2 linked regions of the Homo sapiens genome follow. Each later gene encodes a partner of the first gene's protein in a complex. Each region holds a gene or a part of one and is shown on either strand. Other genes may lie near its edges.

Region 1 (7,632 bases):
GAGAAAAGTGTAGAAAGCATGACCTTCTCATCATGGTCATGAGATAGCAAGATACCTTTTTTTTTTTTTTTTTTGAGACGGACTCTCACTCCGTGACCCAGGCTGGAGTGCAGTGGTGCAATCTCTGCTCACTGCAAGCTCCGCCTCCCAGGTTCACGCCATCCTCCTGCCTCAGCCTCCCGAGTAGCTGGGACTACAGGCCTCCGCCACCACACCTAGCTAACTTTTTTGTATTTTTTGGTAGAGACGGGGTTTCACCATGTTCGCTAGGATGGTCTCGATCTCCTGACCTCGTGATCTGCCCACCTCGGCCTCCCAGAGTGCTGGGATTACAGGCGTGAGCCACAGCGCCCGGCCAGTAGCAAGATATCTTTACGGGGTGAAAGACAGAAACTCGACACATGCACCTACTTTACGCTACACAGAGAAGGCAATTCCAGGGCCCGCAGGTCTAAATATGAAAGAGAAAATAAAACATTAAAATTTATAAGTGATAAAAAATAGTAAATATCTTCATGACATCAAGATAAAGGTTTCTTTAAAAGAACACAAGGCCGGGCGCAGTGGCTCACGCCTGTAATCCCAGCACTTTGGGAGGCCGAGGTGGGCGGATCACCTGAGGTCAAGAGTTCATGACCAGCCTGGCCAACATGACGAAACCCCATCTCTACTAAAAATACAAAATTTAGCCAGGCATGGTGGCACACGCATGTAGTCCCAGCTACTCGGGAGGCTGAGGCAGGAGAATCGCTTGAACCCGGGAGGCGGAGGTTGCAGTGAACCGAGATCTTGCCACTGCACTCCAGCCTGGGCAACAGAGCACGGCTCCATCGCAAACAAAAAATAATAGTAATAAAATAATGAGATAACACAAGTAACACCAGCCATAAGGAAACCAATTTGTAAGCGTGCTGTGTTAAAATGAAAATCTTCTGTCTTCATCCTGCCTCCCAAAAAGAGAGCATTACGGAAGTGAAAATTCAGACCCCGAATGAGAGGAGATGTGTAGCACAATGTACCCAAGTTCCTTTTCCACAGATGGCCTTGGCAGTGTCTGCCATCCCACATGCTCTTCTGCATGTGACCTTGCCTCTCTCTAATAATTGTGGGGAACATGTCCCCTAGGCAGGCTGTGACTTCTTCGAGACTATCTAGTTTCCACCTAGTTCTCTTGGATAGTCACTCTGGGGAAGCCACCTGCTACACAAGAACTTCAACTAATGTGGGATTGTCATGCTGGAAAGACACCGAATGGGCGCACTGGTTGGCAGCCCCAGCTGAGCTTCTGGACAACAGCCAGCACCGACCACCAGGCATCCAACCCAGCTAAGTAAGCCCTTGTCAAATTCCTGACTCTCAAAAGCATGAGCAAAACGAAATAGCTGCTGCTTTGCCCCACAACATCTTGGAGTACTTCATTATACAGCAATAATAAAGGAACTGATAAAAGACTCATATGCAGAATATATAAAGAACTACAAATCAATAAGAAAAAGACAGATGGGGAGTCGTAAAGAGCAAAAGACTTGAAATCTAAATGGCCAATTATAAAAATGTGCTCAACCGCAATGGTAATTAAGGAAAAGCTAATAGATCAGGCATGGTGGCTCACCTCCGTTAATCCCAGCACTTCGGGTGACTGAGGCGGGTGGATTACCCGAGGTCAGGAGTTTGAGGCCAGCATGGCTAACATGGTGAAATCCCGTCTCCACTAAAAATACAAAAATTAGCTGGGCATGGTGGCGTATGCCTGTAATCCCAGCTTCTCCAGGGGCTGAGGCAGGAGAATTGCTTGAACCTGGGAGGTGGAAGTTGCAGCGAGCCAGGATCGCGCCATTGCACTCCAGCCTGGGAACAGAGCAAGGCTCTGTCTCAAAAAAAAAAAAAAAAAAAAAAAATAGCTAATGAAACCGCAATGAGATGCCAATGCAAACCAACTAGAATGGCCACATTTTAAAAACCAAAACTGACAATACTGTGGGTAAAGGTGTGCGGCAGCGGTAACTGCTTACGCTGCCATGATCATGCAAAATGGTACAAATCACTTGAAAAAATACTTGGCACTGGCTACCAAAGTTGAAGACAGCATGTGTACACCAGGAAACACATACAAGAGTGTTGTGGCAAAAGTTGGAAACTGGTAACCACTCAAACTTCCATTAATAGTAGATGGACAAATTGTGGTGTATCCTACTGTGGAAAACTATGCAGTTACGAAAATGAGCAAAGTATAGATCATCACAGCAATATAGATGAATCTCACTAATGGTGTTGAGCAAAAGAATATAAATGGTATGAAGGCACTGAGATAAAGTGGAAAAAAAAAACAACAAGCAAAATGTGAGCTAAACTGTAGGGACACAAACACACAGAGAGGAGTAATAGACACTGGAGACTCCAAAAGCAGGGAGGGAGGGCAAGAGGTAAGGACTGAAAAATCACCTTTTGGGTAGAGTGTCCACTGTACAGGTGACGCGTACACTAAAAGCCCAGACTTCACCTGTACACAATATATGAATTAAGAAATCTGCACTTATGTCCTCTAAGTATACTTTAAAATTTTAAAAGCACATTCTGGCTGGATGCGGCGGCTCATCCCTGTCATCCCAGCATTCTGGGAGGCTGAGGCAGGTGGATCACTTGAGCCCAGGAGTTCAAGACCAGCTTGGGCAACGTGGCGAAAACCCAGCTATGCAAAAAAGTCACTGGGTGTGGTGGCGCACATCTGTGGTCCCAGCTACTTGGGAGGCTGAGGTGGGAGGATCATTTGAGCCCGGGGGGTGCTGAGGCTGCGGTGAGCAGATATCATGTCACTGCACTCCAGCCTGGGTGACAAAGTGAGACCCTGTCTAAAACAACAACAACAACAAAAAAAAAACAAGTATATTCTGGGCGGGGCACAGTGGCTCATGCCTATAATCCCAGCACTTTGGGAGGCTGAGGTTGGCAGATCAGGAAGTCAGGAGTTTGAGACCAGCCTGGTCAACATGGTTAAACCCCCATCTCTACTAAAAATACAAAAATTAGCCGGGCATGGTGCCGGGTGCCTGGAATCACAGCTACTCAGGAGGCTGAGGCGGGAGAATTGCTTGACCCCAGGAGGCAGAGGTTGCATTGCAGTGCAGTGAGATCGTCCCACTGCACTCCAGCCTGGGCAACAAAAGAGAGACTTTGAGAAAAAAAAAAAAAAGTACATTCTGAAAAAAAAAGCAAAACATATATTTTGATGATAAAATGATAAACAAAAGCAGGGAAATGATAATGCCAGGGTAGTGGGCATCTTCTGGGGTTGGTGAGGGGTTTGTGATGGGAAGTGAGGGGATGTGGGGATGTCATTCTACATCCCTTGGCCTGGAGAATGGAAACACAGGTATTTGTTGCTTTAAAATTCAGGTTTATAATATGCTGATATATTATGTACTTTCCATAAGTGTGTTACATCTCATAATCTTTCAAAGCTAAAAAAAATCAATATATGATTGATAAATACCTAACTTCATGTATCGCTTGGTTACCTAGTTTCCCCAACCTTATTTGTTAAATTATCTACACTATCCGCACTGATTTGTGATTCCAGCTTAATAATATAGCCACTTCTTACCTGGATTGGAGAGAGCTGGTAGTGGTTATTGAAAATCTACTCTTGCTTTTTGGCGAGGATGAAAGGGCTTTGGGGGGCGGGGGTGGGGGGATGGAAAATGTGAATGAAACGAAAAGCAGGGAAGGAGGTTGAGACAGTCATGGTCATGGGCTTCATTATTAAACAGGAAAATTCTAGAGACAAACTGAAAAGAGAACGGAAGTCTGTAAGAGGGTTGCCAAGTCAGAAAGCAAAAGCAAAGTGTCGCTTTATTAAAAAGGTGGGGGCGGGTCCTGATTGAGCTGAGAACAAAACATCTGGGGGAGTTCTAAAGCTAGGAGGCCAGGCCTGCAGGGAGGGGGTCGGTCATCCCGGGTGTCCCGCTCACGGGTGCGGCTTCCGTCGACACTGTCCGTCGACACTGTGCAGGTAAACACTGCTGAACGGGTTTTGTTTTTGCTTTTTTTTTTTTTTTTTTGGCTCCCAGACTGGAGTGCAGTGGCGCGATCTCGGCTCACTGCAACCTCCTTCTCCCGGGTTCAAGCGATTCTCCTGCCTCAGCCCCCCCGAGAAGCTGGGATTACAGGCGCGCACAACCAAGCTCGGCGTATTATTTTATTTATTTGCTTGTTTATTTTTGAGACTGGGTCTCCCTATGTTACGCCGGCTGGTGCCACTATTTTCAAAGATGTAACATACTATTTTTACAAGGATTGCTTTCTTGTTTAGTCTAGATTTTACCGATGGAAAGAAAGGACGGAAAAGAGCGCGTGCCGCATTTTGCTCCCCTTTGCCCACCAGGCTCCATCACCTCCGGAGCGCATCGCGAGACCGTCTGCGTTACCCGCGTCCCCGCGCCCGGAGCCGCCCAGGAGGGGGCCCGGACCCTGTGGTGCGGAGCGCGCACTGCTCGGGTGCACCGGACGCCCCGCGGCGGGCTGGGAGGGACGGGGGGAGGGGGGCGCGGGGAGCGGCCTGAATCCCGGGCCCGCCTCCGGCCCCCGCCCCGCCCCGCCCCGCCCCAGGCCAGCCGGCGCCCGCGCGGACACTTTCAGCCCCGAGCCGCGGCCGCTCGGGTCGGACCCACGCGCAGCGGCCGGAGATGCAGCGGGGCGCCGCGCTGTGCCTGCGACTGTGGCTCTGCCTGGGACTCCTGGACGGTGAGCGCGGCGAACGGGCCACCCGCCCGAGCGTGGGGCTGGCCGGGGAGGGGGTACCGCGCACCTGGGGCGGGCGCTGAGACCGCTCCGCCGGGTACGGGCGGGGGACACGGTGGCCCTGGTGCGCGGACGCCTGAGGGGAGCACGGCGCTTGGGGCGCGGGACCTCGGGATGAGGAAGGGGCGGGCGGGGACCGCAGCCGGGTCAGGGCCAGGGCGGCCGGGCCGCGCCTCGGCGCAGGGGTAGCTCTCCCGGCCCCTGAATCCGCGTCTCCGTCGGTGGCTCCGCGTCCTCGGAGCCGGGCCCTGCCGGGCTGCGCGCTGAGCCCGGATCCTTCGCGCCCTTACTCGCTTCCCCGCGGGGTCCCCGCGCCGCGCCGTCCCGACCCACGCGCGCCGGAGATCCATCCCGGCCGGGCCCCGGACTTGGGTGCGCACTTCCCGACGCCCAGCGCCTCCGCTCGCGGTCGGTCCCCCAGAGGGCGCTCGAGGCGGGCTTCCCCCTCCCCGTGGCCGGCGACGGCGGGGACAGGGGCCGGGGACCACCGCGCGCCCGAGGCGGACGGGTGCAGGTGCACGCTGGCACTTGAGACGAATCTTGAGGAGGCGAATCGCGGGCTGTCAGCGCCGCAGAAGGGGCGGAAGGCCAGGGGTCCCCGGATTTGAGGGGACAGGGGCCTCGAAGGCCAGCTGAGGAGCAGAGGCCCCCGCGGGAGGGTCCCCTGCACAGGAGAGGCGGGGTTCGGTTTGTGTTGGGATGTGGCTCTGGCGGGGAGAGACGCAGACCTGAAGCGGAGGCGGAGGGGTTGGAAAGAGGGACTGTGGGGGATGAGCGGGCGGCAGAGGGAGTGGATGGAGATGTCAGGGAGGAAGCTGAGAAGATGAGCTGGGAGTCCCCACGGAGCTGGTGTCCCTGGAAATCAAAGGGTGTAAGGGCGGGGTCAGGGGTTCCAGTGTCTGAAGCCCTGAAGTCAGCGACGGGGACCTCAACATTTCTGCACGCCATAGGAATTAAATACTGGCTTTACATGCTTGTAATTCTCACAGGGAGTGTCAGACCCATTTTACACATGGAGAAGCTTAGACCAAGGACATGTGTCACTTCCCCAAGGTCCCCAGGAGGCCCAAAGTAAGCCTGACAAAGCCTGCCTTTGCTCACCACCTGTATGTCCACTGGCTGAAGGGCAGAGGACAGGAGAGGGGGCAGGTCTGGCTCAACCAGGGGAGGAGGGAGGAGAACATCTATCTGGGCCTCCGAGTCGGGCAGGCCAGATCAGGGCGCTGCCCTTGGCCCTCCTGGACCCAGCCCAGGACCAGGCTCCCACAGGTGCTCAGGATGTATTTGTCGAGTGGCTGGTAGACCTTGGTTGGACTGCAGGGCTGTAGAATGGGAGACGCTTATCCTGGAGGAGACATGGGACAGGCACCTGGGCGCAGTGTCTGAGCTGGGCTGAGTAGCTGGAGAGGAAGAGAGAGACCCGGGAGGGGAACCCTGGAGGAGGGGCCCAGAGGGCAAGGGGGCTTCCAGGGATCCAGGGAACATTCTGCAGGTATAAGGAGAACCAGGAGAGGCCAGTGTCCTGGTGCTCCCGGGTGGAGCACAGAGGGACGTGGGGTGAAGGGTGAGGAAGCTATTCCCTGCAGTAAGTAGTGACTCTTAGTGACCCAGTTATGAAGAGGAGAGAGGGCATTAGTTGGGCGCCCCATGGAGAGGGGTGTCCTGGGCTGGACCTGGGTTTGGCTGGTGGGGAGATGGCAATGAAGACAGAGGTCATCCCTCCGTGAGCCCTGCACCTTGCTGTACCCCCTGCTAGGCTGAAGACCCCGGGAGCCCCCAGCTTGATGGGGGATGCCATGGCGGAAGCACAAGCCCTCAGCTGCAGTCGGGTGTCAGGGCAGCTGGTCCGGTGGGAGCTGCAGTCGGGTGTCAGGGCAGCTGGTCCGGTGGGAGCAGGCCAGAAGCCTGAGCATCCTGAAGCTGACCCCTTAAAAGTGTGCTATTGATCATAGAACCAGACTCTTGTCCTGCCTCTGCCGTAAAGTCCTTTCTGTGTGACCTGGGCCCCCTCCTTTCCCCTCCCTGCACCTCAGTTTCCCCAAGCATAGCCATGGCACAAGCATAGCCATGGCACAAGCATAGCCATGGCACAAGCTGGCAAGCCCCGAGGTTGTGTGGGTTGTGTGTGCTTGGGCTGGACTCCAAGACCCAGATGCCTGCTGCAGTTCCACAGTCTTGCCCCAGTGGAGAGGGTAGGTCACAGATGTCTCTTGGGGCTTAGTCTAGAGAGAGGCCATTGGCACCTCTGCACTGTGGCTACCAGCTCAGGGACATGCAGGAGCAGGGTCTGCTGGGCATCTGGAGTGGCCTGGTCTCAGGACGTTTGCCCTTGCTGTGACCTGGGTCACAAAGGCCCAGATGTGGACAGATGTGTGGCCCAGGGATGCAAGTCACTGCAGGCAGGATGTGGGGATCAGGCCCACTTTACTTGGGCCTGGGGACCTTCTGCTCCAGCTCAGGGCTCTGAGGACTCGAATGCAGGTGCTGTTCCCTCATCCACCAGGCCTATGGCACAGAGCCAGTGTGGCTGAAGGAGTCCTGAGCCCTCCCAGAGCATAGGGCCCACATGGCTGGGCCCAGACAGGGTACGAGGTGTGATGTGTGGTCTGTCTGGCGAATTCTTCACTGTAACCCCCAGCAGTGGCACCCCGACCCAGGGAAGGAGCCTGCAGTTCTATGCAAGACCCCAGCATAGTGCCTGTTCGGGGTGGCCCAGGGAGGACTTGGACCTGGCCCCATCGCACAGGGGTTTCCTGTGCCTTGCAGGGACACAGACATGCCATCAGACGTGTATTGCCCAGGGATGAAAGTGTTCAGGGGCCCTGGTGAGGCCCA
Region 2 (7,025 bases), on another chromosome or scaffold:
TTACTGAATCAAAAAAATATGCTGTCAGCTGTTCAAGAGCTGGGAAGTGTGTCCACCACTGATTTTTCCTCCCTTTTTCCTGTCTGCTCACGGGCCTCCAATGCCCCCAGCACTGTAGTCTTCAGCACAGGGTAACCACGCAAGTCACAGCACTGACTGGCAAATTGACAAAGAGAACCACCAAACAAAATCAACTATTTGGAATAAACTAGAGTACTCAAGCAAATCAGCTTACTCTCAGAGAAGGAAAGTATCTACTCCATAATTCATCCCAGTGTCCCAGTGTCCGCACATCTCAGACAGCACACGCTGTACTAGTTACCATTCTGGAAGAGGGTCCCTTAGGAACAGTGCAATCACATTTTCCTAAACAAATTCACACAAGTTTAACTCTGGCATATAGCATTCTCCCCTTAAGTTTTCTTTATATTTTCCTCAGTGAAATTGTTGATATTTTAGGTATTCTGTGATGATTTCATTGTAAATTTAGAATGCATATTTATTTTTTGTGGCAATAATATAGATGAGATATTTACACATCAAAGTAGCAACATTAGCATGTTTCATTAATAAACATTTAAACTTGAAAATGTATATGCTCTGAATATATTCAAGATGAGTTCATATTAAATTATATGGCATTATAAAAAGCTTATGTGTACCAAAATCCTTTACAGCCAAATGACCTAAGTATGAATGAAGCACATAAGGAGACAGCATCATCCCAGATTCTTTGGTTTGGTGTGGTCTATGGACACCTGTGCTGCCCTCCAGGAGAGGAACAAACCCCGGCACCCAGGGGAAGTGGGAACATATTATAGGCAGAACTACAGTATGTAGCCTCCAGACACTGAATGATTAAACACCCTGCATTTCCTTCACCTGTTTCAAAATCAAACATCAGTATTATATCCTCTTGCTATATTTTAGAAATTGGGAAAATTGTCAGTAATTTATAATTTTAAAAATTTAATAAATTAGTTGCAAGGTGCTGAAGAATCACAGTTATGTCATATGTCTAGGACATAGTACTTACATGCTATATTCTTTGTTTGTTTTCTGATCATGAAGACTATCTATTTAACACAAATTTACAGAAAGCTTACTATATGCCAATCATGGTTCCAAGGGCTTTATATGTATGCACATGCTGTTTTTTTTTTTTTTTTTTTGAAACAGAGTCTCACTCTGTTGCCCAGGCTGGAGTGCAGTGGGGTGATCTCAGCTCACTCACTGCAACCTCCGCCTCCTGGGCTCAAGCCATCTTCTCACCTCAGCCTCCAGAGTAGCTGTGAATACAGGCACGTGTCACCATGCCCAGTTAATTTTTCTATTTTTTGTAGAGATAGGGTTTTCCCCATGTTGCTCAGGCTGGTCTCAAACTCCTGGGTTCAAGTGATCTACCTGACTCAGACTCCCAAAGTGCTGGGATTACAGACGTGAGCCACCACACCTGGCCTATATACACATTCTTATCCTCAAAACAACCTGATTAAGCAGGCATTAATTATATTCTACATTTTGGAAGAGGACTTTTAAAAGGATAAAGTAACTAGGCTGGGCGTGGTGGTTCACACCTGTAATCCCAGCACTTTGGGAGGCCGAGGCGGGCAGATCACGAGGTCAGGAGATTGAGACCATTCTGGCTAACATGGTCAAACCCCGTCTCTACTAAAAAAATATAAAAAAAAAATTAGCTGGGTGTGGTGGTGGGCACCTGTAGTTCCAGCTACTCAGGAGGCTGAGGCAGGAGAATGGCGTGAACCTGGGAGGCGGAGCTTGCAGTGAGCTGAGATAGCACCACTGCATTCCATCCAGCCTGGGCTACAGAGCCAGAGTCTGTCTCAAAAAAAAAAAAAAAAAAAAAAAGATAAAGTAACTAAATACACAAAACAGACACAAAGAAAAAGAAAAAATTAAAAATTAAAAATTAGCATCTACTCATTGTGCTACAAAGAAGCAGAGAGAAACTAAGTAACTTGTCCAAGGTCACACAGGTACTAAGAGGCATCCTCAGGACATGAATACAGAAAGGCATGTCCATACCCTGTGCTCTTATCCACTGCACTGCATCTCTAAACAAGTTACGTCACTGACACAAGCAACAGTTATGTGACTGAAACAAGCAGAAATATTGGCAGTGAGTTCTTCCAGGCGCTATCACAGGCAGTGTAAACAGAGTGCATAGGTTCTGCAGTTAGCAAAATAGCTAGCTTTGATCCCAGCCTTTATCACTTATGACTGCATACTTTACTATTGCATAAAAGTAAGAGAAAATGGTAATTTAGGGATGAAGTTTTAGGTAAATTAAATTACAAAATAAATGTCTAAATAGAAACCTTTCAACTATAGAAGTCAAACCACATCTTTCTGGTCTACCCCAAAATATACATCTTTCCACCTGTCCAAATGAGGACAGGTTGAAGCCAAACTTCTTTAGAAGTGAGTCTTTTAAACTTGTAAGTATTACCTTTTACACAAAGTTGTGCATTTGAATATTTCCTCTTTCAGTATGTCCTTTCTCTAGTAGGTGGCATCTCTTGAGTTTGAGTAAATTATTCCACCATATTTAAAAAAACCTTTTATAAGAACAGCCAAAGTATTTATATTGTTTATTTGGTAGTTTACCCACCTCCTCACATCCCCACTCCCACCTTTCTGGTCTCATTTTTAGCAGATTTTAAAAAGCAGGAATTTCCAGGACACTTTAGGGTTCTCTCCTTCTCTTTTTTTTCAATTGCCCACTGACCTACAAATAAATGTGTGTGCAAATATAGAGATTCTAATCTTGTACACTTCTGATTGTCTAAATATTCTATTTCAATGAACTGTCTACAAATTCTTAACCATGCAAGAAAGAACACGTAAGTCACACTTGGCAGTCTGAAGAACTATTAAGCGGTGTATGCATGAATATGTGTGTGGGGGGTTCTGTGTATGTGTATCTAAGCATGACCACTGTTTACACTGCTTGCTTCGTTTGGAATGCAAACCATAATGGCAGAGATGTCTATTTCTATACTTTTGTAAATGTATCCAGATAGCACAATGATGGGTGCCTACAGTAAGTCAAAAGTAATCACCACTATCATCGCCAGCAATCAGGAGCATATAGAGGAGTTCGAATACCATATATGGGTGGCCACTGTAATGAGAAAGGCAGAGTCACTGCCAGACACTTTAAGAAACCCTGCAGTTGAAAATGGCTTCTGAGAAGCTTCTGAGAAGCTTCTGGTCAGCTTTCTTAGACACTTCTGTGCAACAATGCCAGGTTAAGCTCCTTAAAAACCTCACTTTCAGCATACCACTAAAGAATCTTCATTGGCTCCTGCTGCTTTCAACTCAAACTCAGACTTTCTCTTTGGTTTTCACACTTCCCACCATGCTCCCTTCAGTTTCCCTTAAAGCTCTTGACTTTTGCACCAAAGGGTTTGCTTCTAGTTCCCCAAATATCCCTGACCTTTACTTCCTCTGTACTTTGCTGTCATTCTTCAATATTCAAAACATCCCTCTCTCCCCCATTTCTGTAATTAGCATCTACTCATTTTTAACATTGGGTCTCATATCATTCCACCTTTCCCAGGCCTGCCCATGCAACTCCCAGAAGGCTAGCCAACAACTGGTGGTAACTCACAAGACTCTCTTACAAAACCACTTACATGGTCTGGATTTATAGTTTAATTCACTTGTAGTATTTTTAATGAGTAAATTTATTTTCTCCAAAATGATTATAAGCTTGTTATAGACAAGATCACTCACTCTACATTTTTTGCATCACACACTGAACTGTAATTTCCTGCTTAGAACTGAAGCTGCCACTAGTAAGAACTGATTAACATGAGTTGAAGTAGATTAAAGAGCAAATAAACCTGGTACTAATGGGTAAAAAGGAATTAGGAGCATCCACATGGCTTCTTTCTTGAATTCCTGGATTACCTTTCCCTGCCTCTTCCAGGCAGCCCCAAGGCAATAAAGCAATGGAGGAAGGCCTGTGGAACAGGGCTACAATCCATCTGCTTATCCAAAATGCCTGGAGACTGCAAGAGTCTCTGAACCTGGAATTTTTCTGGAAACCAAGTGCATAGACATATTAATACTCACACCCCAAAAACAAGCAGGACTGATGGCAGCATCATGTAAATAAATACATTACTATTTTCCCAGTGAAGATTAGAAATATTTAAATTAGATAATAATGACTATAAATAGCCTTATGTCAGTTCAGATCAGGATTATAGCACCAAATAATTTAAGAAAATTAGCTTTTGGGGCCGGGCGCAGTGGCTCATGCCTGTAATCCCAGCACTTTAGGAGATCAAGTGGATCACCTGAAGTCAGGAGTTTGAAACCAGCTTCGCCTACAAGACAAAACCCTCTCTCTATGAAAAATACAAAAATTAGCCTGCTCTAGTGGCACATGCCTGTAATTCCAGCTACTTGGGAGGCTGAGGCACGAGAATCGCTTGAACCCACGAGGCAGAGGTTGCAGTGAGCCAACATCATGCCACTGCACTCCAGCCTGGGCAATAGAGCATGACCCTGTCTCAAAAAAAAAAAAAAAAAGGAAAGAAAGAAAAAGAAAATGAGTTTTTGGATTTCAAAATTGGAAAAAAAACTATCGTGGATAACTCCTAACACCTGAAAGCCACTAGGGCGCGAGCAGTATAAGGAAACAGTACTAATCCACTGACAAAGCATTTAATGTACAATTTGATTAATTCCATGATGGATGCCCAATAAAGCAAATTAAATAAAAACAGTCTCTGCTTTCTCATGGTTAAACATAAACTCTGAAAAAAAAAATTAATCAACCGAGGAAAGAAGCCACCCCAAAAATTTACACTAGTAAGTTTCAGAAAAACAATTACACAAACCTAAAATATTTATAGTAAATTTTATAATTACACTATAACTCAAACTCATCAGCATCTCTCCTTGTTTAAAGTTCTCTGCTATATCTGTTTTTTCTAATGAGAAAAATCAATGATAACTTAATCCACAATTTATACAAATCTGTACATACAAATATGTGTTTGTAACAAAAGGTAGACCCATATAGTATTTATAAAATGCACATCTACAAGGAATAATGTAACTGGTGAAAGGTGAAACAATATATGCTCAGAAGTCAGAGGAAGTATAACGCTTCTGCCAACTTAAATTTGTTCTTTCCAAATCCACTTATTTGTGAAAGGTCATTTGGCAGAGGTAAAATCACAATCTTTCACTGAAGTTACTTGAGCACAACTTTGAAAAACCGTTTGTCAGAAAATCTTGTTAAGCCTCCAGTTAAGCAGTCGTTCTTATAATATTACCATGGATTAGGTCATTTATAATTTATCTTTAGTCAAACGAACACCATGTGGTAAAGCCTGGAAGAAAGTCTGGGTTTATTTCCGTTTGTCCCGTTGTGGGGAATTAGGACCTAAATAAATGCAACAAGGTGCCCCTAACTGCAAAGTCACACGCAGTGCTTTTCTCTGCCTTCCTGCACGCTGCTATAGTGTGCCAAAGGAGACCAGCAGAGGGGCTGAAAGGAGTCTGAATCACAGGCCCAAAGGCCCAAACCCATTACCACATTTCTCTAAAACATACATGCTTCTCGATTTACGATGGGGCTACATCCTGACAAATTCCTCCTGAGTTGAAAATATATTTAATATACAGTAGAGTACCTGTTGTTTACTCTCACGATCACATGGCTGACTGGTCACAGCTCACTTCCATTGTCCAGCATCCAGAGAAAGTATTTTACTGCATATTATTAGCCCAGGAAAAGATCAAAATTCAAACCTTGAAGTATGGTTTCTACTGAATGTCTATCGACTTTGCACCATTGTAAAGTCCAAAAGTCCTAAATAGAACCATTCTAAGTCGGGGACTGTTGGTATATGCCATAAAACTTTTTTTAAAAGAAAAAAAGGAAAAAAACATCTATTCTTTTTCCTGGTTAAGTCATTCAGATCTTGGGTTCATCATCCTTAATGAAATAAAATAATGTCCATATTATGGAGGTGTAGTGAAAAACAAAACTAACTTGCAAAGCTCTTTGCGAAGTGCTTAACACACGTTATGAACATCACAGATAATGATTATAAACTCCTACTCTCAATAACAACCCCAGGACTGCCAAAGGCAAGCAGGCAAGCACAGTCCCAGGGATTCGGGAAACCTTCATTAGTCTCACGCCAGTTCCTCTGTTGGTGAAAACCCCAGCAAGAGCTGAGAAACAGCATTCTGGGTTGGACACATGGAGATAACTAGGAGGCCAGGACCTTCCTCTCAAGAGGAACCGGAACCAGAACTGGAAGTCCAAAATGAAATCTAAATCCACTACCCTCCGTCTTTCTCAACTCAACTGAAAAGGACAGGATTAGAGATCTACGGGTCTTAGACATATGCCACTAAGATCAGTAATTAACTGCTTTCTATGAAGCAATTTTGATAACTGTCTTGTGAATAAATAGCTATCAATCAGATATTCATAGTTCAGAAGACTATAATGGAGTGGAAATCAAAATGAAAGATGAATTGAACTTTCTATATCTAAAACCTCATATAAGTAGCATCACTCAGAGGAATGTCAGAAATCTCTTATAAGAGTAGATGTTGACAAACATAATCATATACTATAAGAAAAATTGTAAATAGAACAGCTTCAGACTTGCTATTCTCTTTTGTTCCCATCATGTCCAGTTAATTTTACTTTTGCCTGCCTTACTTTTTTGACACTGTCTTGTTTGTGTTAACATCCTTCAGAGAAACATTTTAAGACTTTTCAGTAAGTCATGCAACCACAAATAACTAGAAATAGGAATCCAGTAAATGCAAATATAAGTCGAGGAATAAGGAGATCTTCATTCTATTTGTGATTTTTACCTACAATCTTTTGCATGGCTTTACGGGTGGGCTGAAGGGCTGGATGGCTAACCTTGGTTCATAGTTTGTGTGCTATTTTTGATTTTTTAAATATTAAAAAAGTTCCTAGGTGAAAGTTATGAAAACATTGCATCTATTGGGATTAT

The links.
Region 2: the proteins of FLT4 (region 1) and VEGFC are in contact, whole or in part, in a crystal structure (PDB 4BSK), measured with the Homo sapiens proteins. Residues at the interface, in NP_891555.2 of Homo sapiens: Gln172, His199, Asp200, Ala201, Leu202, Tyr203; in NP_005420.1 of Homo sapiens: Leu119, Asp123, Trp126, Gln130, Asn167, Arg210.

What each region holds. Positions count from the first base shown.
Region 1 is NC_000005.10:180,646,596-180,654,227, reverse strand, and holds the start of FLT4 (vascular endothelial growth factor receptor 3 isoform 1 precursor), read left to right. Parts: upstream 1-4,627; 5' UTR 4,628-4,682; coding exon 4,683-4,740; intron 4,741-7,632. UniProt on the Homo sapiens protein: Tyrosine-protein kinase that acts as a cell-surface receptor for VEGFC and VEGFD, and plays an essential role in adult lymphangiogenesis and in the development of the vascular network and the cardiovascular system during embryonic development.
Region 2 is NC_000004.12:176,782,911-176,789,935, forward strand, and holds part of VEGFC (vascular endothelial growth factor C preproprotein), read right to left. Parts: intron 1-7,025. UniProt on the Homo sapiens protein: Growth factor active in angiogenesis, and endothelial cell growth, stimulating their proliferation and migration and also has effects on the permeability of blood vessels.